Linked DNA regions of Homo sapiens. The protein of the gene in region 3 purifies or fractionates together with the protein of the main gene of each other region. This does not show direct contact. Each region holds a gene or a part of one and is shown on either strand. Other genes may lie near its edges.

Region 1 (3,500 bases), on a different chromosome or scaffold from region 3:
GAAAACTAGACATTATGCTGCCACAGTCCAATGATGAGCATATGGGGGTGTTTGGCAACTCTGAATCCAAATATTCATAATTGTCACCTAAATATATTTAAGTAAGGAGGTCTGGCACATTTTCTGTTTTAAACCATGCATGTAAGTATAATATATAAAATTTATTCCGTCTCTCATTTCATGGTATTAAGTGAATTTTTTTTCAGCAGAATAAAGTTAGGAAGAATAGAAATAATTTGAGTGCTTACTATGCACCAGGTACTTTTTTTTTTTTTTTTTTTTTTTTTTTGAGACAGTCTCCCTCTGTCGCCCAGGCTGGAGTGCAGTGGCGCAATCTCACTCACTGCAACGTCTGCCTCCTGGGTTCAAGCGATTCTCCTGCCTCGGCCTCCCAAGTAGCTGGGATTACAGGCATGTGCCATGATGCCTGGCTACTTTTTGTATGTTTAGTAGAGATGGGATTTCACCATGTTGGCGAGGCTCGTCTCCAACTCCTGACCTCAAGTGATCCACCCACCTCGGCCTCCCAAAGTGCTGGGATTATATGCATGAGCCACTGCGCCTGGCCTTACTCCAGGTACTTCTATGTGTGTTTTAGCTTAATGTTCCCAACAAGTCTACGAAGTAGGTGGGTATTGACCTTGTTACAGAGGAATTAAACAATTGAGACTAAAGCAGGTTAAGTAGCTTGCCCAAGCCCACATATTCAGGAGCTGAGGTTCTAGTGTGTGTGTGTGGTTTTTTTTTTTCTTTTGAGACAGAGTCTCACTGTCGCCCAGGCTGGAATGCAATCGTGCTATCTTGGCTCACTGCAGCCTCCACTTCCTGTGTTTAAGTGATTCTCCCACCTCAGCCTCCCAAGTAGCTGAGATTACAGGCATCTGCCATCATGCCTGGCTCATTTTTGTATTTTTGTAGAGACAGAGTTTCACCATATTGGCCAGGCTGGTTTGAACTCTTGACCTCAGTTGATCTGCCTGCCTCAGCCTCTCAAAGTTCTGGGATTACAGGCGCAAGCCACCACGTCTAGCTTCAGGAGCTAAGATTTGGACCAAGGTCTTCTGTTACTCAAGAGGCCAGGCTGGTCCAGCCAAGGCCTGCTGCTCCGAGTAATAGCTTAGTCAAGAAGGAGCTTGCAAAATCTTTTCCTGTGGACAAAAAAAAATTTTTTTAATTTGAACATGGCAATACATAAGAATGGTTGGAAAACATTTTTTATGTTTTTTGACTTAGTAATTTCATTTCTAGGAATTTATTTTAAGGGAATAATCATGGAGACACATAAAGCTGTGCATGCAGGTGAGGTTTATAATAGGAAAAGGTTAGGGACAGCCTCTGTGCCCACCTGGGAGGCTGGTCAGTAGGTGATGCTGTATCTGTACAATGAAATGCTATTCAGGCCGAGCGCGGTGGCTCACACCTATAATCCCAGCACTTTGGGAGTCTGAGGCAGATGGATCGCTTGAGCCCAGTAGTTGGAGACTAGCTTGGACAACATGGCGAAACCCCGTCTCTACAAAAACACAAAAATTAGCCGGGCATGGTGGCACACACCTGTGGTCCCAGCTACTTGGGAGGCTGAGGTGGGAGGATTGCTTGAGCTCAGGAGGTCAAGGCTGCGGTAAACCAACGCTGCACCACTGCACTGCAGCCTGGGCGAGAGAGGAGACCCTGTCTCAAAAAAAAAAAAAAAAAAAAAACAACTATTCAGATAGTTTAAATTACATGATAGAAGAATATTGCTAGGAATATATATGTATTATGCACATACATAGCAGGACTCCACTTTTATTGTATTTGTTTATATATTTTTGAGACAGGGTCGCACTCGCCCAGGCTGGAGTATAGTGGCACAGTCACAGCTCACTGCAGCCTCAACCTCCTGGGCTCAAGTGATCCTCCCATCTCAGCCTCCCAAGTAGCTGGGACTACAGGGATGCACCACCACACCTGGCTAATTTTTGTGTTTTTTGTATTGACAGGGTTTTGCCATGTTGTCCAGGCTGGTCTCCAACTCCTGGGCTCAAGCAATCTGTGTGCCTTGGCCTCCCAAAGTGCTGGGATTACAGGTGTGAGCCACCAAGCCCTGCCAGGACTCCATTTTTCTAAGAAAACGCATCATTTTTGTGTATATTTACCAAAGGAGGACTGGGTGTTTATACTAAAATGGTATAATTTGAATCAGATTACAAGAAATGCTTCCTTTCCCTTCCTTTTTGTTTTTTTTTTTTTTTTTTGAGACGGAGTCTCGCTCTGTTGCCCAGGCTGGAGTGCAGGGGTGCGATCTCGGCTCACTGCAAGCTCCGCTTCCCGGGTTCACGCCTGGCCCTTTCCCTTCCTTAAACAAATCCATGGTTGTTATTTTTATTTTTGTAATTTAAAACCCTGATTTTTGAAGAGAAGTAAACTGAAAGGGCCAAGCGTGGTGGCTCACGCCTGTAATCCCAGCACTTTTGGAGGCCGAGTCAGGCGGATCACGAGGTCAGGAGTTCCAGGCCAGCCTGGCCAACATGGTGAAACTCCGGCTCTCCTGAAAATGCAAAAATTAGCCAGTTTTAATGGGGCGCGCCTGTAATCCCAGCTACTCGGGAGGCTGAGGCAGGAGAACAGCTTGAACCCGGGAGGTGGAGGTTGCAATGAACCGAGATCGCGCCACTGTACTCCAGCCTGGGGACAAAGCAAGACTCTGTCTCGAAAGAAAAAAAAAAAGTAAACTGGAGCCAGCAGATTGCCTAAGTGTAAGACAAGCACGTGCCTGGGGGCTTGAGGTGCGCGGGACCTCTGGCTCCTCACATGAGTTTCACCGAGCACTGTGGCTTCAGGTGCGGCCGCGGGCACTGCCGAGCTGCTGCCATCCCCGAGTGGATCCCTCAACTGGACCATGGGCCTGCCCACCGACAATGGCCACGACAGCGACCAGGTGTTTGAGTTCAACGGCACCCAGGCAGTGAGGATCCCGGATGGCGTCGTGTCGGTCAGCCCCAAAGAGCCGTTCACCATCTCGGTGTGGATGAGACATGGGCCATTCGGCAGGAAGAAGGAGACAATTCTTTGCAGTTCTGATAAAACAGGTAGGGTAATAGCTCTGCAAGCGATGCCAGGCCCCAGTGTCCAGTAGGGTGGGTGCCAGCGGCAGGCTCCCTCTCCTTTCCCAGGGTCCCCTGCCAGCCTGGTGCTCGTAGGCCATGTGCCATGCTGTGTGCCTGGGGCACTTGGTTCCCTAGAGCCACGGCCTGGGCATTTGGGTATTAGCTGTTGTTGCTCAGTGGGGTCCACGGTGATCACAGGCTCCGCCTCTCAGGAAAGCCCAAGTGTATTTGTTTCTAAGCCCTGCCTTGGCTTAGCCGAAGAGTTCATTTATGCAGATGAAATTGTGTCTTCAAAATCCATTCAAGAAACAGCTTTAATTTCTCCTTTGGATCTTTAGTTGGCAATTTACCCATAGAAACTGCCTTTGCAGATATGAATCGGCACCACTACTCCCTCTATGTCCACGGGTG
Region 2 (3,495 bases), on a different chromosome or scaffold from region 3:
CCCACACCCGCTCCTACAGGGCCAGGCTCTCAGGGGATGGGCCGGCCAGGGTCCCAAGCAGGAAAAGGCAGACTCCGGAGGCCCACCCTGCCCCCTTGTCCCTGAGGGTGCAGGCTGCCTACATCAGGTCCCAAGACAGTTTCTCTGCCTCCACATCCTCCATCAGCCGCTCCAGCCGCCCCCTGAAGTTGCTCTCAAAGCGCACGTCATCCTCAAACACCAGGACCCGGGCCAGGCCCCTGGCAACCACCTGTGGCATACAATGGGGTGGGAGATGGCTCTTCGGAGTTAAACAACCCCCCTCCCTCCACGCTGAAGCTCACAGCCTCTGCCTGGCCTCAGTTGGCCTGGCCACATCATGCAGTTGCCCCAAAGCCTGCTGGGGGCCCCACTGCCTGGGACCGGAAATCCCAACCTCGCTCTGGCATTTGAGGATCTCCAGATAGAATCATGATGGTAACCGTGGCCCTTGCTACATTCCCTGAGTGCTACTGTGCCCCAGGGCTGTGCCACTGCGTATCTGCAGGGGCCCTCAGGAGGCAGGAGATGATGATCCTCAATCGCAGGAAGGAGGTGGACATGCAGGGATGGGAAACTGCCTGTCCAAGGACACACAGCCAGGAAGTGGCAGAGCTGGGATATGAACCCGCATCTGCTGAACACCAGGGCCCAGCTTGTCACTTTGGCCTCCTGCAATTTTCCTTTTTTTTTGAGACGAAGTTTCACTCTTGTTGCCCAGACTGGAGTGAAATGGCCCCCCAAGTCAGGGGGCTGCATGGAAGAGGAGCAGGAACGGTGGAGGCCAAAGCAGCCATGGCCAAGACCAGGAGCCATCTCCCCTCCCACTCCTCCAGCTGCCTGAGTGCAAGCATGACAGATGGTGGCTGGGCCCAGAAGCCCAACTCTCTGGGGGCGGGGAAGTGGCTTGCAGTTCCCATCAAAAGATGGTCTTGGCTCACTGCAACCTCTGCCTCCCGGGTTCAAGTGATTCTCCTGCCTCAGCCTCCCAAGTAGCTGGGATTACAGGTGCCCACCACCACACCGGGCTAATTTTTTTTTTTTTTTTTTTTTTTGAGACGGAGTTTTGCTCTGTCGCCCGGGCTGGAGTGCAGTGGCACAATCTCGGCTCACTGCATGCTCCGCCTCCTGGGTTCACGCCATTCTCCTGCCTCAGCCTCCCGAGTAGCTGGGACTACAGGCGCCGCCACCACGCCTGGCTAATTTTTTTGTATTTTTAGTAGAGACAGGGTTTCACCGTGTTAGCCAGGATGGTCTCGATCTCCTGACCTCGTGATCCACCCGCCTCGGCCTCCCAAAGTGCTGGGATTACAGGCGTGAGCCACGGCGCCCGGCCAACGCCGGGCTAATTTTTGTATTTTTAGTAGAGACGGGGTTTCACCACGTTGGCCAGGCTGGTCTTGAACTCCTGACCTCGTGATCTGTCTGCCTCAGCTGGGATTACAGGCGTGAGCCACCGCACCTGGCCTGGCCTCCTGCTATTTTCTAAAGGAAGCTGGGCTGGGTGGGGGGTGGGAAGACCCCAGCCCCGAATATCCAAAAGAAAAAGTACTTTTGATAACTTTTGGAAAAGTTACTTTAGAATAACTTTTGGAAAACTACTTTTGATAACTTCTGTGAAAAGGAAATCAGCTCAGAAAGTAGTGAAGCCAGGAGCGGTGGCTCATGCCTGTAATTCCAGCACTTTTGGAGGCTGAGGTGGGTGGAATCACTTGAGCTCAGGAGTTTGAGATCAGCCTGGCCAACATGGCGAAACCCTGTCTCTACAAAAAATACAAAATTTAGCTGGGTGTGGTGGTGCGCGCCTGTAGTTTCAGCTCCTCGGGGGTGCTGAGGTGGGATAATTGCTTGAGCCCGGGAGGTCCAGGCTGCAGTGAGCCAAGATCACGCCACTGCACTCCCGCCTGGGTGCCAGAGCAATACCCTGTCTCAAAAAAAAAAAAAAAAAAAAAAGTAGTGAACCATGTCATCCTCCAATTTGTTCAGGGACGGTAAAAAAGCCAACATAGGCTGGGCATGGTGACTCAAGCCTGTAATTCCAGCACTTTGGGAGGCCGAGGTGGGCAGATCACCTGAGGTTGGAAGTTCGAGACCAGCCTGACCAATATGGCGAAACCCCCTGTCTACTAAAAATAGAAAAATTAGCCAGGTGTGGTGGCACATGCCTGTAATCCCAGATACTTGGGAGGCTGAGACAGGAGAACCGCTTCAACCCAGGAGGCAGAGGTTGCAATGAGCCAAGATTGTGCCACTGCACTCCAGTCTGGGTGACAGAGCAATACTCCATCTCAGAAAACAAAACAAAACAAAAACCCATAATGCTCACATACACGTGCACATATATTTGGCTATAGCAGAGAACACAAACAAGGAATCCATGTCCCATCTCCTGGAAGGGCTGCCCTTGGAGGGCCCAGTTCCCATTCTCTCCTGCCGTGTCCAGCAACCTCTTTCCTGCGCTCACACTCCCAGCCCCTGGGCCGAGGCTTCTTGGCCAAGTACTGAGCACATGCTAAGCCCCAGGCTTCCTTCTTTCTGCTCCTAAACACCTTCCTGCCTCAGGGCCTTGGCACCCACTGTTCTCTTCTGCCTAGAAGCCTCTTCTCCCGGCCCCTCAATGGTGAGGTCCATTCTGACCCCCTCCCACACGAGGCACCTCTCAAAGTGGCCCATACCTCTCCCCTCCACTGCAAGCTTGGTTTTGATTTCCATAATCCCGCTCTGGTCCCTGAGCCCCAGGGGGATCCCTTTATTGCAGGAAGGAGCAGACATGCATTGTTCCTGTCCTCCTCTGTGTTCTCAGAGCAGAATATCTCCTAGCACATAGTAGATGCTCAAGAGAGACTGCAGAATGAAAACAAGCACCGCTTAGTGGTGCCCACTGGGGTGTTGAACACAGAGGAGATTGAAAGCTGCTGGCCAGGTTTTGATGAATGTCTTCATTCACTCACTCGTTCACAGAGCAGTGAATAGAACAAACTGGCCCCGTTCTCCCCGAAGGCTGTGGATGGAGGAAGCAGGCACCCTCACCTCTTCCCAGATGGAGTAATGGCTGAGGAAGCAGCCCACCTCGCCCTTGGTCAGAGTGCGGCCCGAGTAAGGGTCCTGGTAGCCCGGGAGCAGGTCTACGCCGAGGTTCCTGATGGCACTGCTGTTGAGCATCCTGAGGGACACAGGTGTGGCGGGGTGAGGGGTGCCTGCCAGAGACCCCTCCAGAGGGGCCAGGCCTGTGCATGTTGGGGACAGTCACACTGGAGTCGGGTTTGAAGAAGGTTTCTGCCTTGTAACTCCTTTGTGTGACCTGAAGCTGTCAAGGGACTGGACCTGGGGAACTGGAGCCCCTGTTGCCCAGGCTGGAGTGCAGTGGCACCATCTCAGCTCACTGAAACCTCTACCTCCCAGGTTCAAGTGATTTTCCTGCCTCAGCCTCACAAGTAGCTGAGATTACAGGTGCCCAGCTAATGTTTTTTTTTTTTT
Region 3 (3,500 bases):
CTTGTCAGTGGAGGATGTTACTATCTGCCTGACTCATTTTATTGAGTCAATGTGAGGTTCCAGCCATATGTGAAAGTCTTCCTTTACCATATATGTGCACAATACTAAACTGAAGAGGTTCCCTCAACCCCTGAAGAATGAGTACTTTCCCACTGGGAGTTAGACACATGGACGAGAGAACATGTGTGCATCCATGGGGCTGGAGAGTCAGTCTCATCCCTCGGCCAGCCAGGCTTTGGGACCCTGCCATGTGTTCTCCAGGTCTCCTGGACTGGCCACAGTGATGGGTGCTCATGGTATGCCTGGGGATGTGATACCTCTAGAGATATAGATCTGGAATCACTGGGATGCAGAAGGCAAGTGAAGCCATGGATGTAGATGAGCTACTCTCAGATGAGAGGATAGAGTAAGAAAAGAAGGGAGCCTTGGACTGATCTTTGGGGAATTGCATCATTGAGAGAAGCAGGTAGAAGATCAGGAGACAGCAACAAAACCTGAGAGAGAATGGCCAGAAAAATGGGAATACTAAGTATGGTATTTTTGAAGCCAGCAGAAGAGAACAATCACGTGCTAAAAGAAAGGAAGAAGGATCATGAAGAGGGGAGAAGAGGAGAGATACATTGCAATTAACTGATATTTTAAAACTCCAATACACACAATTTTATCAAAAATACAACCAATACATTGACTAAAAAAATTAACAGGAAACACACCAAAATGCTAATAGTAACAGTTTTAGATGACTGAAATTGTTTTTTCTTTTTTCCATATAGTCTGTGATGTACTTATGTCATTTTTACCATTGAATTACTGTATTTAGTAATAGAAGATATATGGGTATGAATACCTCAAATTGGTGTAAGAGAAAAGGCTATCTGCATAGACCTGAGAGAGAGAAAAATACACACACACACACACACACACACACACACACACACAAAATAATCAGTTGTTGAGCTTAACCATAGAATCTCATGGTAGGATTTGGCCTGATTTACTTTTCTATCCAAAAATATTTTCTTATTGTTGTTTTAAGTGAGAATGGTCACCAGGTGAATTTCAACAGGTCTAGAAGCTTTAATTGTCCATCTCATGATACCTGTAATGCCTAGGAGTCCAGATCTCAGGGACTAGAATCAAGGACTCCTCAAACAATCCCTGTGGTAGAACGCATTGCTTACAGCTCACCAATGCTCAGGGCCCCATCCTGTGGAAGGAATGTGCTTCCTCGCATCCCCAACATCAGCCTTAACCATGTGACTTCTTTGGCTACCAAAACATGAGCACAAGTGATGTGTGCCACTTCTGGGATGGAAGTTTTAAGAACCAACACACATTCGCCATGCTTTCGCTTCTGTCACTGTGATCCGCACAGGTCCAGGTGTTTACTGCTCTAAGAGTCTAGGTCCCAAAGCATGGACAATGACATGGAGGGAAGCCTCAGCCAACCTGGAATGATCATGTGTGTGAGCAAGAAATACATTCTTATTGCTTAAAACAACCGAGATCTGGGGGACAACTGCTTGTTACTGCAGCCTGTTCTGACAGATAGAGTCTTCTGGAATTCCAAAAGAAATACATATATATCTGTGTGTGTATATATGTATGTATATGTATATGTATATGTATGTATGTATGTATGTATGTCAGCAATACCATCCCTTTCTCAAGAAACCTAATTTTTAAGTCTTCTTTCCTTCTCTAGATGATGCATATTTACTACAGGGGCTTAATATAGAGGAACTATATCCAGAGACCTCTAGTTTCATCACTTACGATGGGTCGATGACTATCCCACCCTGCTATGAGACAGCAAGTTGGATCATAATGAACAAACCTGTCTATATAACCAGGATGCAGGTGAGTTTCTCTCTGGTCATTTAGCTAATGGAGAAGAATGATGTTAAAAAAAAATCACTGAAATGTGGAGTGCCTATTATAATAGTTTACTAGGACCACTATAACAAAGTCCCACAAACTGGGTAGTTTAAACTAACACAAACTTATCGCCTCACAGTTCTGGAGACTAGAAGTCCAAGATCAAGGTGTCAGCAGCGTTGCTTCCTTCAGCGGAATGTGAGGAAGAATCTGTTCCATGCCTCTCCCCTAGCTTCTAGTGGTTTGCTGACAATCTTTGACGTGCTTTGGCATTTAAAAGCACCACCCCAAGCTCTACCTCCATCTTTTTTTTTTTCTTTTTTGAGATGGAGTCTCGCTCTTGTCACCCAGGCTGGAGTGCAGTGGCGTGATCTTGGCTCACTGCAACTTCCACCTCCTGGGTTCAAGCGATTCTTGTGCCTCAGCCTCCTGAGTAGCTGGGATTACAGACACGTGCCACCACGCCCGGCTAATTTTTATACTTTTAGTAGAGATGGGGTTTCATCATGTTGGCCAGGCTGGTCTTGAACTCCTGACCTCAGGTAATCCATTTGCCTCGACCTCCCAAAGTGCTGGGATTACAGGCGTGAGCCACCACACCCAGCCTCTACCTCCATCTTTATAAGGTGTTCTCCCTGTGTCTGAGGCTCTGTGTCCAAATTTCCCCTTTTTATAAAGGCACCTTCTGTATTCCATTAAAGCCTAACCCCAATAAGCTTGTCTTAGCTCATTCCATCTGCAATGACTATTTCCAAATAAGGTCACATTCTGAGCAACTAGGGGTTACCAGTACCTTCAGCTTATGAATTTCAGGGGTACACGATTCAACCCATATGCCTGGGTTTAAAGAGCCAGCATCCAAAAGGCTTAGCCTGAGCTAATTATAGAAGCATCTCAACTGTCTCAGTGGGAAAAGATAGCCATTAATTCCCAGAGTGTATTCTACAACTACAGTGTTCAGAAAGCAAGCAAGCAAAATGGAAGATGTCATTATGCATTTGAAAAAGTTGGGTTTTAAAAAGTTAAATAGATTCCATTGTTGAAGGATTTCTGGGGTCCTTCTTAAATGCTAATATATGTGTCAGTCTTCAAGAGGAAGTGGTATGATATGTAGTATTTTGCACACATATTTGAATGTGCAGTGTTTTTTTTGGATCATCTCACAGAGTTAGTACTCATCAGAACTGGATGGGAGGCAGATGGGTCCTCCTGTGTGAGCTTGGCTACACGGCTTATTGTGCTCTTCAGGCCTGTCACCCACCTCTATGAAATGAACACTCCTCTTCTTTATTGAGAGGGGGATAAATTACATGAGTTTGCTCCAGCTCTGACATTCTACGACTGTGGGAGTCTATAACAAATTAAAGGAGAGATGAGCAAAGGAAGCAGAAGCCAATATCCTTGACGGGATATGTGTTCCCACCTGACCACCATTTGAACAATTTGAAGTTCCTTAACCTATCTGTATTGAATGGGACCCACTGGGTGACAGGCAACAGTAACTCCCCACTTAAGCTTAGAAAAAGCATTTATTTGAGAGCTACGAGGGCATCTTAGAGAATTTAAAATCAGAAATTGACATCAGAAATTCACTGAAATGGGAACCCCAGAAGTGCTTTCTC
Region 4 (3,500 bases), on a different chromosome or scaffold from region 3:
CATGTGCTTGTGCAGGCCATTGCTGAGAGCCTTGGTGAGCGTGCAGGTCCTTAACAAATGCTTTACGATGCTGTGTATGTGTCTGTCTAGCCTGTGAAGCTGGTTAGAGTGGATGAATGTGTTTTTGTGACTGTTGAGGCAGAGTGTGCATACAGGTATGAGGGGATGGCAACAGAGAAAGAAACAGAAACAGAAACAGGAGGAATATAAAATCGCCTTTAGAGGTATGAGGCTTAGGGCATTTTTTACTAAGTAGATACTCAAAGGTGTACGCTCTTGACAGGAATAAAGCCTGTCCTTTGGCATAAGGTACAGTGATGGCTGCTATGAAGGGTGAAGTTCTCGGCAGTGGGAAACTTGTCCCACTTTTCCATGGCATGCACCCACCCTGGGACTAAACCCTGAGCAGAAGTGACAGGGACCCATGAGTTTGCTCCCTCCCCAACTGCCGCATTATCCAAGCCAGACTCCCACTTGAGACAACCCACTCATGGCCAGCACACCAGGAGGCACGACAGGACAGTAACTGCCCAGCATCCCCTGCCATGAGGCAGGGATGCGTCCCCTCTTTCCCTCCTCCCTCCACCAGGGTCTAAGAGCTGGAGGTCTGGGCCCTGTGTTCCAGTCACACCTCATGATAAGAACACATTTTGTGACAACAGTCATACATATCATATAAATATATTTGTTCAAACTACAAAGGGATGGATATCAGGGGGAAGCTTTTATTGCTGTGGGGGGACCTGGAGAGGGAGGGGGGCCTTGGAAATGGGGATACCTGGGACCACTTGTTCCCCCCATTCCTCACAGAAGGCACAAATACATTATTTCTTTCCATGTGAGGAGATGCGAGGAGAGGATACAGAATACAGGAATCCTCAAAAATACAAAAAACCCCTCCAAACTGAATACCTAAGGTTATGGAAAAGGCTAGGGTGGGGCACAGAAGTCAATGGGGGAACAGAAAGAGGAACCAATGAAACTGAGAACCAAAAGGGACCTGAGAGGCCATGATGTCCATGCTGCTGCCTCTGTGCAGACCCCAGAGAAAACTCAGGTAAACCAACGGAAACTCCAAATAAGAGAGGGTAGGGTGCCCCAGGAATTGGCTTTGGGGCATCAGACAAGGGAGTGTGAGTGTGAGTGTGTGTGTGCAGTGGCTGTGTATCAGAAGCAACCAGGGCTAGGAGTGGACGATTCTATTCCCACAGGGGAAGGCCTCCTCCATCCCGGTTCCTCCAAAACCACTTTCAGGGGATAAATTCAGCCACTGCTTCCGAACAGGACCCCTCCCTGGGACAAAAGAGCCAGGTAGGAGAGGATGAAGTGAGAAATCTTGGGATGAAAACAGGGCACACAGAAGCAGTTCTTAGGGAACAGAATATCATGGAGCCCAGTGTGATAGAAAATGGGCATGAAACCTAAGTGTATGCATGTGTGTGAGTGTGTGTGTGCATGAGTGTGTATTTGTGCATGTACGAGGGAGTAAGATCACTCAAAGGTGAAGGGGTCCTGGGTGCTGAAAAAGAAGTGTCCATCCATGTGGTCCTCCAGGGCATCCTTGTCACTCTCAGCAGGAAAGCGCTCCTTACAGATAGGACACTCCTTCCATGTGGGGGTGGCAGGGCCCCCAGTGCTGGTTTCTGACAGGGTACCCACTGTAAAGCCACTAAGAGAGACAGAGGGGAAAGGGAGAGGGTCGGCGTGCTCTGTTCCCTTCTTGACTTGCAGACTTCGGAGAGCAGGACCCATGTGCCTGGGTTCCCAGGTTATCCTGTGCCTAATGCAGCATCCTGGCCTCTCCCACAGCGTCTTTCTCCCCACAATCCTGGAAGGCTTATTTTTCCAGTTCCCCATGTCCTCTCTTCTTTAGTCCCTGCTGGTCTCTGCAGTGCAGAGCCCATCCCCCAGCCTCCTGCTCTCCTCCCTCCATCTCCGTCTGCTGCCTAATGAGGCTGAAAATGAGTCTGACATCGTCCTTCATCTTCCTGCTCCAGCCGAGAAGGATGACAGCATCACCCCCTCCCTGCCCTGAGCCCATCTCACATCCAGGCAAAACCGGGACTAGATGATCAAATCTCTCTTCCCTGTGCCTGCCCCCTTGAACCTGGGAATAAAAGGGAAGGCAGAAGGGGACAATCTGATACCTGAAACCCCCACCTCTATAGGTTCCCTTCCCTAAGGGTTACCCAGGGAAGTCAGGGAAGAGGGAAAGCATTTCAGTTGTAGCCAGATGGATGCTGGATCCCAGTCTTCTCTCTGCTCCTATCCCTGGGGGCCATGGTCACCTCCCTTCCTCCCCGGAGGACCCTAGGTACCTACCTGGTGGTTGGGGAAGGGGTAGAGGCAGGAGAGAGGGGAAGCAGGGCAATTTGGGCTCTGCAGAAGATGGTGCTAGAACAACATAGAAGCCAGTTAAAGGCAGGACCTCTGAGTGCATTGATAAGATAGGGGTAGGGATTACCTGAAGGCATCTGGGATTTGGAGCAGTGAGTCATTTTCCTTGTTAACCATACCTGTATCTCCTTTTCTTGGCTGAGGCCAAGAAGGGCAGGGGTTGGGAGCAGGGCCTGGTGACTGTCCACACAGATGCCCTTTCCCTCTGACCTCCTCCCACCTCCCTCCTGGCCTTGCTGGTTGAACTCACCTGGCCATGTCATAGAAGGCACTGCCCAGTTCAGGAAGCAGTAAGTTGGCCTCCTCACCCCCACTCTGCACAGCTGCCATCAGGACTGACTTCTCATCTTCAGCCTCCTGGATGCCAAAGAGACAGGGTTGGGCTTTGGGGTGGTGTCCCAAGATGGGGGAGCAGCACATTGGGACAGGTATGGGAAGAGCAGCCAAGGCTAGGACAGTGACCTGAGGGGCTTAGGAAGAGTGAGGCAGGAGAGGCGTTTTGAGGGGCTGGTGAATAATAAGAGAATGACTGTGGGGGAGAAGCAGTGAGGCTATTGGGCTGGTCTGGGTTTTGGGATGATATCTACTGGTGTGGCACTGAAGAGAGGCTGGGCCTGCCTCCTCTCCCCTGGGAAAAAGAGAGCCCTGGATAGCTAAGATTCCTTCTCTAATTAGCCGGGGGTGCCTGCCTGTGGTCCCAGCTACTCTTGGGAGACTGAGGTGGGAGGATCGCTTCAGCCCAGGAGGCAGAGGCTGCAGTGAGCCAAGATCGTGCTGCACTCCAGGCTGGGACACTTGGGTTTGGCCCTGCCCCTCCTTACTGCTTCTGCACAGGCTCCTCCACTGCTCACCGAGTCAGAGCTACTGTCCTCAGCTGGCCCAGAGAGGTGAGGAGAAATGGGAGCCGGCTGGCTGATGACAACAAGGGGAGAAGCCTCTCGAGGCCCAGCAGGAGAGGAGCCTGGGTCTCCACGCTCACAAAGGCCATAGGGTGGGAGCCTCATGTCTTCTGGGGACTCGTCCTCTGAGTCTGTCAGAGCTGCCGGGCAGCCTGTAGGAGATGAAGCAGGCAGAGAAGAAAAAAGGATGTGTTGTGAGGAGTT
Region 5 (3,500 bases), on a different chromosome or scaffold from region 3:
ACGCAGCCCTCAGGCAGTGTCAAATCATCTGGCTGCTCCTGAAGCTCATCCTCAAGTGATGCCAGGTGGGTGAGGTTGGGCAGGCAGTATGGGTGCATGGCCCGCACCAGCTCACTCAGGGAGGAGATGCTCTCATCACCAGCTGCTGGCACTGCCATCTCTGCTGCTGTTGCTTTATCTTCCTCCTCAGGGCAGGCCAAATGCATGGGGAAGTCCGGGATACTGCTCACACAGTTGTCAAGCTCCCCGGCAAGAATCTGGCCACTGAAGCTGGCCACCTCCTCCTCTTCTTCTCCATCACTGCGCTGCTGGGGAGGTGGGGATTGGCCCCAGCGTGGTCTTGATCTTGGGGGTCTCCAGCTAGGAAGCTTGGGGGAAGAGGTCTCTAAGAAAGAGGGTGGGGAGAAGTCCCAAGAGGGATCTGGAAGAGACATTTCAACCTGCAGGAGAGAAGAGAGGTCTCAGGAGGAGTTTTCTTTGGGAAAGTATTTTCCAGACCTGTCCCCACACACTCCTCCTCCCACCTGGGAGTTTCTGAAACCCTCTAGGTCAGGCTTACCCCACTCCCTCTACTGCTGCCTGTACTGGGCCCCAGTGGGTCAACTGGGGTGATGAGGTCACGTTCTGGGGGTGTCCGAGAGAGAGTAAGCAGCTTGTGCAGCTAAGAGGGAAAGAAAGACCTGAGATCAGTCTATGCTTCAGAGCTATATGAGTAGGTCCACAGGCATGGGTCTAAACTTTGTACTAATCCCCTTCCCCTGGTCCCACACTCACAGAGGAGCCCTCCCGGGGTGACACAAGCAGCTCCGAATCAGGAATGCTGTCAAATGGAGAAAGGTTCTCAGAATCTGCATTGTCCAAGATCTCCGTCAGAGCCGTGAGCAGCGACACTTCATTCTGGTCCTCCAGAGATAACCTGCTCTGCTCCAGAAAAACAACCAGAAGGTCCTACCAACATCCCTAATGACCTACTATGCCACTAAGGACTGGATATCGAGAGAATCAGTCTCCCAGGTTCAACTCAGCTAATGGGGCAGCGAGAAGGATCTGAATACCAGAAGGCATGGATTCCAATCTCAGCTACCATCCACCAGCTCTTGGTGTCAACAGAGACCTGTCAGACTTGACTCAAGCTTGGGTTTCACACATTCCCCTACCCTCAGATAAGATGTGGGATGCTCAGCAGACAACCATCGGCTAGGCTAGAAATGAGCTGAAAAACAGAGATCAGAATCCTCTGGACATGTAGTTCAGGGGCCCAGACAGTGGGAAAGGCCTTGGACTATAGTCTAAGCTAGGAAAGGAATTCTTACATGGGACATAATCTGGCAGCCTGCAGCCTAATTCCCACTTAGAGACAAAAAATACACTTCAAGGATTCAGGTTGGGCACCCAGGAAGAAGCTAAGGTCCTGGGAGAGCAGAGCCATGCCAAGAATTTGAGCTAGAACCTCCCATGTAAACCTCCTGCTTGAAGATTTCAGAGTCCAGCCCCAGCTCACCTCTCCAAGGCTCCCAAAATCCTCAATGAGGGAGATAAGGGAGGCATCCATGTAGCTCTGCATGGTCCCCAGCAGTGTCTCATCCTGCAGCATTAGCTCCTCCATTTCCAGGTCCTTGTCCCTCAGAGATGGGCCCAGCCGAGAGAGACTGACAAAGCCAGAATCACCCGCCTCCTCATGCAGCAGCACCTGGAGCAGAGAAGAAGGTGAGAAGGGTATGAGCTCTCTGGCAGCAGCTGATAATATGCTCCATAAATCAGGTACCCTCCACTGCTGGGGCCAAACTCAGCAGCAGCAACACTGTCGCCAAACTTCTGGGCTAGCAGAGCAGAGAGAAGCACAACCTATGAGCAAAAACCCCAATAAGGATGGCAGTTTTCAGGGACCTTCTGGGGCAGAAAAATGTTTGGGCTCCAACCAGAAACAGCTAGAGTCACAGATTAAAACCCGGGAGTAAAAACATCAGGAAAATCAAGATTGTTCAGAATCATCTACTGGCAGCAGTGAAGATAACAGTCTGAGGGGCACACCAAAGCAAAAGAGGTCAGCAAGGAGACAGCTTCAGCTCCAACAACCTCACCTACCTCAAATCCCATTTAGTTCTCTGCTTAGTGCAAATCCTACCTTCTTCAAGAAGACACCCCAGCTTCCCCAGCCCACGGTGATCTCTCCTCACAACTCTAAAATCACAGACTTTTCTGCAGCATTAACTTTTCTGGTAATCACACCCCACCCCCTACCCCCATCCCCATGACACTCATGGGTTCGGTCTCCTGGGTTCAAGCGATTCTCCTGCCTCAGCCTCCGGAGCAGCTGGGATTATAGGCGCCCACCACCACGCCCAGCTAATTTTTGTATTTTTAGTAGAGACAGGGTTTCACCTTATTGGCCAGGCTGGTCTCAAACTCCAAATCTCAAGTAATCCGCCCGACTCAGCCTCTGAAAGTGCTGTGATTACAGGCGTGAGCCGCCACGCCCGGCCGACACTTATTTTGAAGGCCCAACAGTGAGACACTCAACCTCTCAATGGTAATTCCAAGGGAAGGGCCTCTTCTCCACTCCTACCAGATGAGAGCAAGTGAAGAGAAAGCTTGATTCCCTAGATGGAAAGGCCCCGCCCCACACTCCTCTAAGAACTAGCAGCATTTACGGCCTCTCGTGTCAGGCATCAAGCAGCCCGCCCAGACCTGTCAAGAGTGTGGGTGTGGGCAGGGCCGGAAGGGACCAGAATGGTAGTGGTGAGGCCAGAGCCAGGGGGATCTCCACTACAGTAGTCCCCCCTTATCCTAGAGGGATACATTCCAAGATCCCCAGTAGATGCCTGAAACCACAGATACTACCAATACATTGGTATGTATTGATACAAACAATACATACCAACGATGAAGTTTAACTTATAAATTAAGCACAATAAGAAATTAATAATAAAATAGATTAAAACAATATACTATAATAAAAGTTATGCGAATGTGGGCTCTCTGGCTCTCAGAATATCTCACTGTACTGTACTCATGTATTTTTAGACCCCAGTTGACAGCAGGTTAACAGAAACTGTGGATAAGGGGAAACTACCGCATAGGAAACATGAAGTAAAAAGGCCTGAGAACAGGATCACATACAGACAGGCCAGACCTTCCCTTTCCTCTTCTGCAACAAAGTGAAATTCCGCACCACTTCCAAAAGAAAAAAGCAACAGGTGTCTTCCACACCCCCACCCCCCACACCCCGGCAATATATACCCTCCTAACAGAGCTGAGTACCAACGCCCAGGAAAAGGAAAGGCTGGTTAAGGACGCGTTAGGAGGCCAGGCCCAGAGAATAAGCAAAAAGTGGTAGGTTTTAGGCACTAACTCCTCCCAGGCCTTCACAATCCTATAATTACAAACCAGCAGCTGAATAGCACCTGGCTCTGCAAACACTCCAGGGTGAGCCAAGAGGCTGCAACTCCATTTGCTCTGCCACCACCTACCTACCAGAGCCCCAGCGACTAAGCTGGAAT
Region 6 (3,500 bases), on a different chromosome or scaffold from region 3:
CCATGGACTGAAATAATATACATGAGTCCATACTGATATAAATAATAAACAGATAAATAAATACATAAATGGGAAGAGACATCCCTTCCTCATAATAGAATTCCAATTACTAAATGAGGAAGGAATGAAGAAAATAGAAAATCATCATCAGGCAAACACCACAGTAATAAATATTGTTGACAAGTTCCATGGATAGATACTAAAATTAGTGGCAGAAAGTTTAAGGAGAAACAGGATATTAGCATAGCTTCAAAGTATCTCCCTCAAGCTACAAAGAGAAAGACAGTGACTGCAATGGTTAATCTTACATGTCAACTTGTCTAGGCCACAGTACCCATATATTTGTTTACTTTTGTTTGACACAGAGTCTCATTCCGTCACCCAAGCTGGAGTGCAGTGGCACCATCTCAGCTCGCTGCAACCTCCGCCTCCCAGGTTCAAGTGATTCTCCTGCCTCAGCCTCCCAAGTAGCTGCAATTACAGGTGCGTACCACCACGCCTGGCTAATTCTTTTTTTTTTTTTTTTTTTTTTTGAGCCGGAGTCTCGCTCTGTCGCCCAGGCTGGAGTGCAGTGGCGCGATCTCGGCTCACTGCAGGCTCCGCCTCCCGGGTTCACGCCATTCTCCTGCCTCAGCCTCCCGAGTAGCTGGGACTACAGGCACCCGCCACCGCGCCCGGCTAATTTTTTGTATTTTTAGTACAGACGGGGTTTCATCGTGTTAGCCAGAATGGTTTCGATCTCCTGACCTCGTGATCCGCCCGCCTCGGCCTCCCAACGTGCTGGGTAATTCTTGTATTTTTAGTAGAGACGGGGTTTCACCATGTTGGCCAGGCTGGTCCTGAACTCCTGACCTTAGGTGATCCACCCACCTCGGCCTCCCAAAGTGCTGGGATTATAGGTGCAAGCCACTGTGCCCAGCCTCAATACCCATATATTTGGTTAAACACTATTTTAGATTTTTCTCTGAAGGTATTTTTTGGATGAGATTAACAATTAAGTCAGTTGAATTTGAGTAAAGCAGACTGTCTTCCATATGGGCCTCATCCAATCAGCTGATGGCCTTAACATTAAAAGACTGACCTCCCCAGAAGAGGACATTTTTCCAGCAGACCATCTTTGTTTTCAAACCGCAACATTCATTCTTCCCTGGGTCCCCAGCCTGCCAGCCTATCCTGCAAATTTTGGACTTGCCACCTTCCACAACTGTATAAGCCAATTTCTTAAAATATATTTCTCTCTCTTTGTGTGTGGGTACATACACACATGTATATACACACATATATTCAATTGGTTCTGTTTCTCTGGAGAACCCTGACTACAGCATTTACAGTGGAGACATTTGGCGAACACCACCGTAACCGAGACATCAAGGTAAATATCACCAATAATAAGGCATATGATACAATAGGCACAGTGACTCACACCTGTAATCCAAGCACTTTGGGAGATCAAGGCAGGAGGATCACTTGAGCTTAGGAGTTTGAGATCAGCCTGGGCAACATAGGGAGACCTCGTCTGTAGAAAAAATTTTAAAAGTAGCTGGGAGTACACCACCACTCCCAGCTACTAATCTCACTCCAATCATGAGAAAACAATGGACAAACCCAAATTGAGGGGCATTCTACAAAATAACTATCAGTAGTCTTCATAAGTGTCAAGGTTATAAGTCAAGGAAACACTGAACAACTGTTTACAGACTAAAGGAGAGTAAAGAGAAACAACAATGGAAAGCAATGTAGAATCCTAGACAAGACCCTAGACAGAATGGGACAGCCCAAGGTTTCATAACATTTTCAGAATGGCACACAATTTAAAACTTATGAATTATTTCTGGAAATTTCCATTTAATATTTTCAGACAACAGGTGACCACAGGTAACTGAAACCATGGAAAGCCAAATCTCAGATGAGGAGGAATACTGTAATACAAAATCAAAGAGGCTAAACCTTATAGAAATAAATAACTATAATTACATGAGCAATTAAACTTTTCAGAGAAACTTGTATTTTATAATATACAAACCATAAACCAGAATACAGATTTTCACATTAAATTTCAACTAGAGTATCTACATAAAAATGTAGTTATTATAAGTTAAAAGAGTATTGATAGTATTTTTCAATCCTACCTGGTTCTGTCATCTGAGATTTTTGTATAAGAACATCTCTTATTTTCTCCACCCACAGGTAAAGAATACTTTCACCGATATTCTGACTAAACAAAATTCAGGGGAAAAAAAAAATTGTTATTTCAAAAATCATCTTCTCAAATTCAAGAAGATACAGACATTTGCAATCCAAGACATTATAAACAATCTAACCATTTCTTTTTTAAAATAATTTATAAAAACCTGGGGTTTATCAACATTTGTGTCTGAGTAGTTAATACAGGTTATAGCAACGTTAAAAATTCCAGTTGACTCCAAAATTAACATGGCTTACTTTAAAATAAGCAGAAGAGCTGTAACCAAAGAGGGGAATAAACATTTCCAAACTAGATGGATTAAAGAAATATAAATGTGACTTAGTTTCTGTAAGTGGATACAATCTTTCAGTATCGATGTCTGATCACTGCTTGCTTTTTTAAAGTTTTTTAAGAATTTCAAACCCCTTATTTGGTACACTTATCATTTAGTATACTTATCTCAACAAGAAAGAATGTAAAGCATATGGGAAACTCCTTCAGGGAGTCAATTTACAAGACCTAAAAGACAATTCAACAATTTTATATTCATATCTTGTTTCTGACAAAACATTCTATTGCCTAAATTGATTCATTTTGGTTCCAAATGATGTTTGGTTGCCTCAGGTAACTAAATCCATCTCAAAGGATCACTGAGAAAAAGAATGTGTCACAGGTTTTAAAGTCATGTCCATAGTTATGTTAAATGATGGTAGCAGCAATAAAATAAAGGCCCAAGTGTCTGCTCTTTAGAAAAAGACACTAATTGTAGTAAGTATGGTATGTGTTTAAAGATATCACCACACTACTATATAGCAACACCTCACCTCCTTCCTCTAAAAGTTTCCCTTGAAACCATTATCTCTCTTTATCACTACTCATCAGCACCCACCAAAACTTTCGAAACAAGAGACAGAAGAAAACAACATTGTTTTTAAATAATTCTATACCCTCAAATCCTCCCCATCACACCCACAATTCCTAGTACTAAAACTAAATACTTGTATTGGTTGATATAACAGTAAAGCTATTCACTAAAATGCACTAAGCTGTGTGAAGTTAAACTAATCACTTGATCTGAGTTTCTGTCACCTAATTTTCAATATTATAAGCTGGATGAGAAGATTTTTGAAATAAGAACATCCCAGAGCCGGGCGTGGTGTAATCAAAACACTTTGGTGGGCCGGGGTGGGCAGATCACTTGAGCTCAAGAGTTCGAGACCAGCCTGGGCAACTTGGCAAAACCCCATCTCTACAAAAAAAATACAAAAATTAGCCAGATGTGGTGGTGCGTGCCTGTAATACCAGCTACTCAGGA
Region 7 (3,500 bases), on a different chromosome or scaffold from region 3:
TCAGTGCTTGCAGACAAAGACACGAGAGAGAGAAGCGTGGAGCCCAGCACCTCTCCTCCGCCTGGGATCGCCCTGAACCCCCAGCACGCCCGGTGCACACAGCCTGGCAGTGACCTGAGCCCACTGACCAAGGACACTCCTGCAGGCTGCCAGCGAGGAACCAGAGCCCGGGGGAAGGATGCCACTGGCCAGCCCCCTTTCCAAGGGGAATAAGCAGGGAAACCAGGCTCCCAGGTGGCCCTGGTCACCCCTGGCCCTGGCAGTCACAGCCTGGTGTGGTCCCTGCATGCGCCACAGAGTCTGTGTGAGCAACGGACTCTGTGGGGGAGATGGCGAGGCGTGTCCGAGGTTGGGTTATAAAAAGGGCTCCAGCTCCCAGCTTGGAGGTGCACACTCGCTACCCTAGGGTGAGGGAGCCACCAGGCTGAGGACGCCCAGGCAATCCGTGCAGGAGTCCGCACCATGAGGACCTGGGGACTGTGGCCAAGAGCTGGCGAGGAGCTGAGGCCTGCCAGCCACCACACAAGGATGTGCCTGCTCCAGCCCTGGTCGAGCCTCCAGATGAGGTGGCTCCAGCCTGACTGAGCCTCATGAGAGCCCCCAAGCCCCAATGCCCCGCAACACAGCTCACAGGTTCCTGAGAGCTAACAGACGCCCCCTGCTTCCAGTGGCTCCATTTCGGGGTAACTTGTAACACAGCAAGGGGTGACCAATATCAAAGATGGTCCCTTTGCTTCCGAGGAAGGACACCCCTGGCCACTGTGGCTCCCCGCCCTGGCTGCGCCACAGAGAACATCACTCGAAGTCGGCTGTGTGGCTGGGCTGGGCTGGGCGACGGGGCCTAGGTGAAGCCTCCAGTCGCAGCCTCCCCAGGGTGACCACTCACCTAATTCGGTGGGCTTCAGCAGCTCATCCAGCATATTAAAGAACGGCAGCTTCACCAGGCGGACTTCTGGCTTGAGGGTCTTGGCGGGCAACCGTCCCAGTCCGTTTAAGTACTTTCCGTAGAGCACGGGGTAGTCAATATTGGGGCCTGCCAGCGGAGTCCTGGGCACAGCGCCGGCCCGGTCGTAGGTGGAGTGCATGGTCAGGGGGTCCAGGGGCCGGTGCGGCTGTGGGGCAGGCTCCGAGTTCTTCTTGGCGTAGCGGGTCTCGTACAGCTCCTTGATCTTCTTGAACAGCTCAGGGCTACAGTCAAACTGCACCAGCTGGAGGGCCCTGGTGACGAGCTCGTGCTTCAGTCCACTCTTACTCCGGCCCACGAAACCCAGGAGCATCTGAAGGTCGGAGACTCGAAAACTCATCACCATGTTCTGAGGAGGAGCAAGCACACACACACTCAGAGGACACAGCTGCGAGGCAGGGGACTCCATGGAGGCCAGGCCCCGATGTGGGGGCCGTGAAAGACACCCACTCGCCAGGAAGCGCCAGCCTTGGCTGGGGCTGGTGGAGTGCCCTGCCCCTACGGTGCCCCCTCCCAGCAAAGCCCTGCCCCCTCCCTCCTCCTCATCAAACTTTCCCCAGCATCGCCAACGCAGCAAAAGCGCCTCTGACTAGGCCCCCCCTTCTATTTTAGGTTCTCTTTCCCTGTCTTCAGCCTGAAAGCATCCCCAGGGCAGGAACTGACAATTGTGCTTTACTTGTAAACAGCCTCTGCCAGTGCCTTACCGGCAAACACCAAATGCCTCTCTGACCCTCAGTCTCTACGTCGGGAGGATAATGACATAAAGCACTGGCTGGGCGGGCGCTCAACCCATGTCAGCCACAGATATGTTTTCCCTTCGGTCTCGCCAACGGTAGCCACAGTTTACTTAGTACTAATCACCTGCCGGGAACCAAGCCGGTCATGTGATTATATATTTAACTCTGATCCTTAAAACACCCCTGCTAGGCTGGTGTGTGAGCTCTGTCACAAATGAGGAACTGTCGGCTCAGAGGTGGCAGCGCCAAGATTCGAACCCAGGCCTGGCTCTGAAGCCAGGGGCGGTTCTTGCTGCCACACTACCCTCTGGATGTCAACACAGGGCTGGGCCTGTGGGGGCCTCCGAAACATCTGCTGATCATCCCAGGCAGGGTTTCTCCTCCTTGGCCCTGTGGACACTGGGGCCATCCTGGGCTCTGTGTGGTGCTAAATACCCACAGCTCACGACAACCAAACACACCTCCACACCCCACACACCTCCACACCCCACACACCTCCACACCCCACACACCTCCACACCCCACACACCTCCACACCCCACACACCTCCACACCCCACACACCTCCACACCCCACACACCTCCACACCCCACACACCTCCACACCCCACACACCTCCACACCCCACACACCTCCACACCCCCCACACCTCCACACCCCACAGCTCCACACCAAACACACCTCCACACCCCACACACCTCCACACCCCACACACCTCCACACCCCACACACCTCCACACCCCACACACCTCCACACCCCACACACCTCCACACCCCACACACCTCCACACCCCACACACCTCCACACCCCACACACCTCCACACCCCACACACCTCCACACCCCACACACCTCCACACCCCCCACACCTCCACACCAAACACACCTCCACACCAAACACACCTCCACACGTTGCCCTGAGTCCCTGGGGGACCGGTCCAAGGGGAAGATAGCAGCCACAGGGGCTGTTGCAGGACCTGGGTCAAAGCGACAAATGAGGCTTGGCAGGACCTGGCCCTCATCGCCTGGCCGGGCCTCTCCAGCGAAATAAAAACCAAACAGCAGAGCCCAGCTGACCCTGGTGTTTGAGGTGGGGTAGACTGGCAGTGGCCTGACCTCCATGAGGGGTAGGACCCTGAAGGGGAAGGAAGGCTCCTCAACAGGCTGCAGAAGCCAGGTGTCCTCGAGGGATGGGCTGGCAGGGTTTCAGGGCCACCCACCCTTAGCCCTGAAGCTGGCCTGGGATGAATGAGATGTGGTGGGAAACAGTAGCTTCCAGGAGGAATGGGGAGAAAGCTCAAGCGTCAAGGGTGTTAAGGAAAGCTGGCGGGTACCCGAAGAAACCAATAAACCATTCAAACTCCACTCGAAAGACCCTGAGGGTCGAAGCCAGAGGCAGTCCCAGTGGGGTATGTAAACTGCAGCCTCCGTGCCAGGAGGCGCTGAGGTTTCCGGCTCCTGGCTGCCCCAGGGTGAGACCAGGAGCCTAGCCGCACATTTCAGCACCAAAGCTGCAGCAGCCGGGGCCCACTGTCGGGTCCTCATCTGTCAGCTCTGATTTCTTCCAGCTGTATCGGGCCAGGGTCCTGTTGGAGACGGAGAGGCTGTCCAGGCTCAAAATGACAGGGACACACGTGCAGGCGGCCCAGCCCTGCCCAAAGAGCCTCGGGAGAAGCCTCTTCCCATATCAGGGCTGCGGGGCCCCGTGACTGTAAAGAATCGGGATGCCAGCGTCTTGCTCCCTACCAGGCACCAGCAAGGCCTGTGTCGCTAATTTCACAATGAGGACACCCATCGTGTA

What was found.
Region 1: the proteins of CA10 (region 3) and CLSTN1 purify together in Homo sapiens (co-immunoprecipitation; 2 studies listed by BioGRID and IntAct, with this or other methods). This does not show direct contact.
Region 2: the proteins of CA10 (region 3) and CERCAM purify together in Homo sapiens (co-immunoprecipitation; 2 studies listed by BioGRID and IntAct, with this or other methods). This does not show direct contact.
Region 4: the proteins of CA10 (region 3) and CALCOCO1 purify together in Homo sapiens (affinity purification with mass spectrometry; 4 studies listed by BioGRID and IntAct, with this or other methods). This does not show direct contact.
Region 5: the proteins of CA10 (region 3) and PPRC1 purify together in Homo sapiens (affinity purification with mass spectrometry; 3 studies listed by BioGRID and IntAct, with this or other methods). This does not show direct contact.
Region 6: the proteins of CA10 (region 3) and IMPACT purify together in Homo sapiens (affinity purification with mass spectrometry; 3 studies listed by BioGRID and IntAct, with this or other methods). This does not show direct contact.
Region 7: the proteins of CA10 (region 3) and PIAS4 purify together in Homo sapiens (affinity purification with mass spectrometry; 3 studies listed by BioGRID and IntAct, with this or other methods). This does not show direct contact.

Annotation. Positions count from the first base shown.
Region 1 is NC_000001.11:9,743,966-9,747,465, reverse strand, and holds part of CLSTN1 (calsyntenin-1 isoform 1 precursor), read left to right. Parts: intron 1-2,822; coding exon 2,823-3,071; intron 3,072-3,460; coding exon 3,461-3,500. UniProt on the Homo sapiens protein: Postsynaptic adhesion molecule that binds to presynaptic neurexins to mediate both excitatory and inhibitory synapse formation.
Region 2 is NC_000009.12:128,430,857-128,434,351, reverse strand, and holds part of CERCAM (inactive glycosyltransferase 25 family member 3 isoform a precursor), read right to left. Parts: intron 3,182-3,495; coding exon 3,049-3,181; intron 251-3,048; coding exon 123-250; intron 1-122. UniProt on the Homo sapiens protein: Probable cell adhesion protein involved in leukocyte transmigration across the blood-brain barrier. Does not express any beta-galactosyltransferase activity in vitro.
Region 3 is NC_000017.11:51,634,215-51,637,714, reverse strand, and holds part of CA10 (carbonic anhydrase-related protein 10 precursor), read left to right. Parts: intron 1-1,705; coding exon 1,706-1,860; intron 1,861-3,500. UniProt on the Homo sapiens protein: Does not have a catalytic activity.
Region 4 is NC_000012.12:53,710,453-53,713,952, forward strand, and holds part of CALCOCO1 (calcium-binding and coiled-coil domain-containing protein 1), read right to left. Parts: intron 3,449-3,500; coding exon 3,249-3,448; intron 2,755-3,248; coding exon 2,648-2,754; intron 2,395-2,647; coding exon of another isoform or gene 2,323-2,394; intron 1,670-2,322; coding exon 1,492-1,669; 3' UTR 1-1,491. UniProt on the Homo sapiens protein: Functions as a coactivator for aryl hydrocarbon and nuclear receptors (NR). Recruited to promoters through its contact with the N-terminal basic helix-loop-helix-Per-Arnt-Sim (PAS) domain of transcription factors or coactivators, such as NCOA2.
Region 5 is NC_000010.11:102,136,040-102,139,539, reverse strand, and holds part of PPRC1 (peroxisome proliferator-activated receptor gamma coactivator-related protein 1), read right to left. Parts: intron 1,691-3,500; coding exon 1,502-1,690; intron 922-1,501; coding exon 775-921; intron 662-774; coding exon 560-661; intron 441-559; coding exon 1-440. UniProt on the Homo sapiens protein: Acts as a coactivator during transcriptional activation of nuclear genes related to mitochondrial biogenesis and cell growth. Involved in the transcription coactivation of CREB and NRF1 target genes.
Region 6 is NC_000018.10:24,436,670-24,440,169, reverse strand, and holds part of IMPACT (protein IMPACT), read right to left. Parts: intron 2,216-3,500; coding exon 2,130-2,215; intron 1-2,129. UniProt on the Homo sapiens protein: Translational regulator that ensures constant high levels of translation upon a variety of stress conditions, such as amino acid starvation, UV-C irradiation, proteasome inhibitor treatment and glucose deprivation.
Region 7 is NC_000019.10:4,010,736-4,014,235, reverse strand, and holds part of PIAS4 (E3 SUMO-protein ligase PIAS4), read right to left. Parts: intron 1,314-3,500; coding exon 887-1,313; intron 1-886.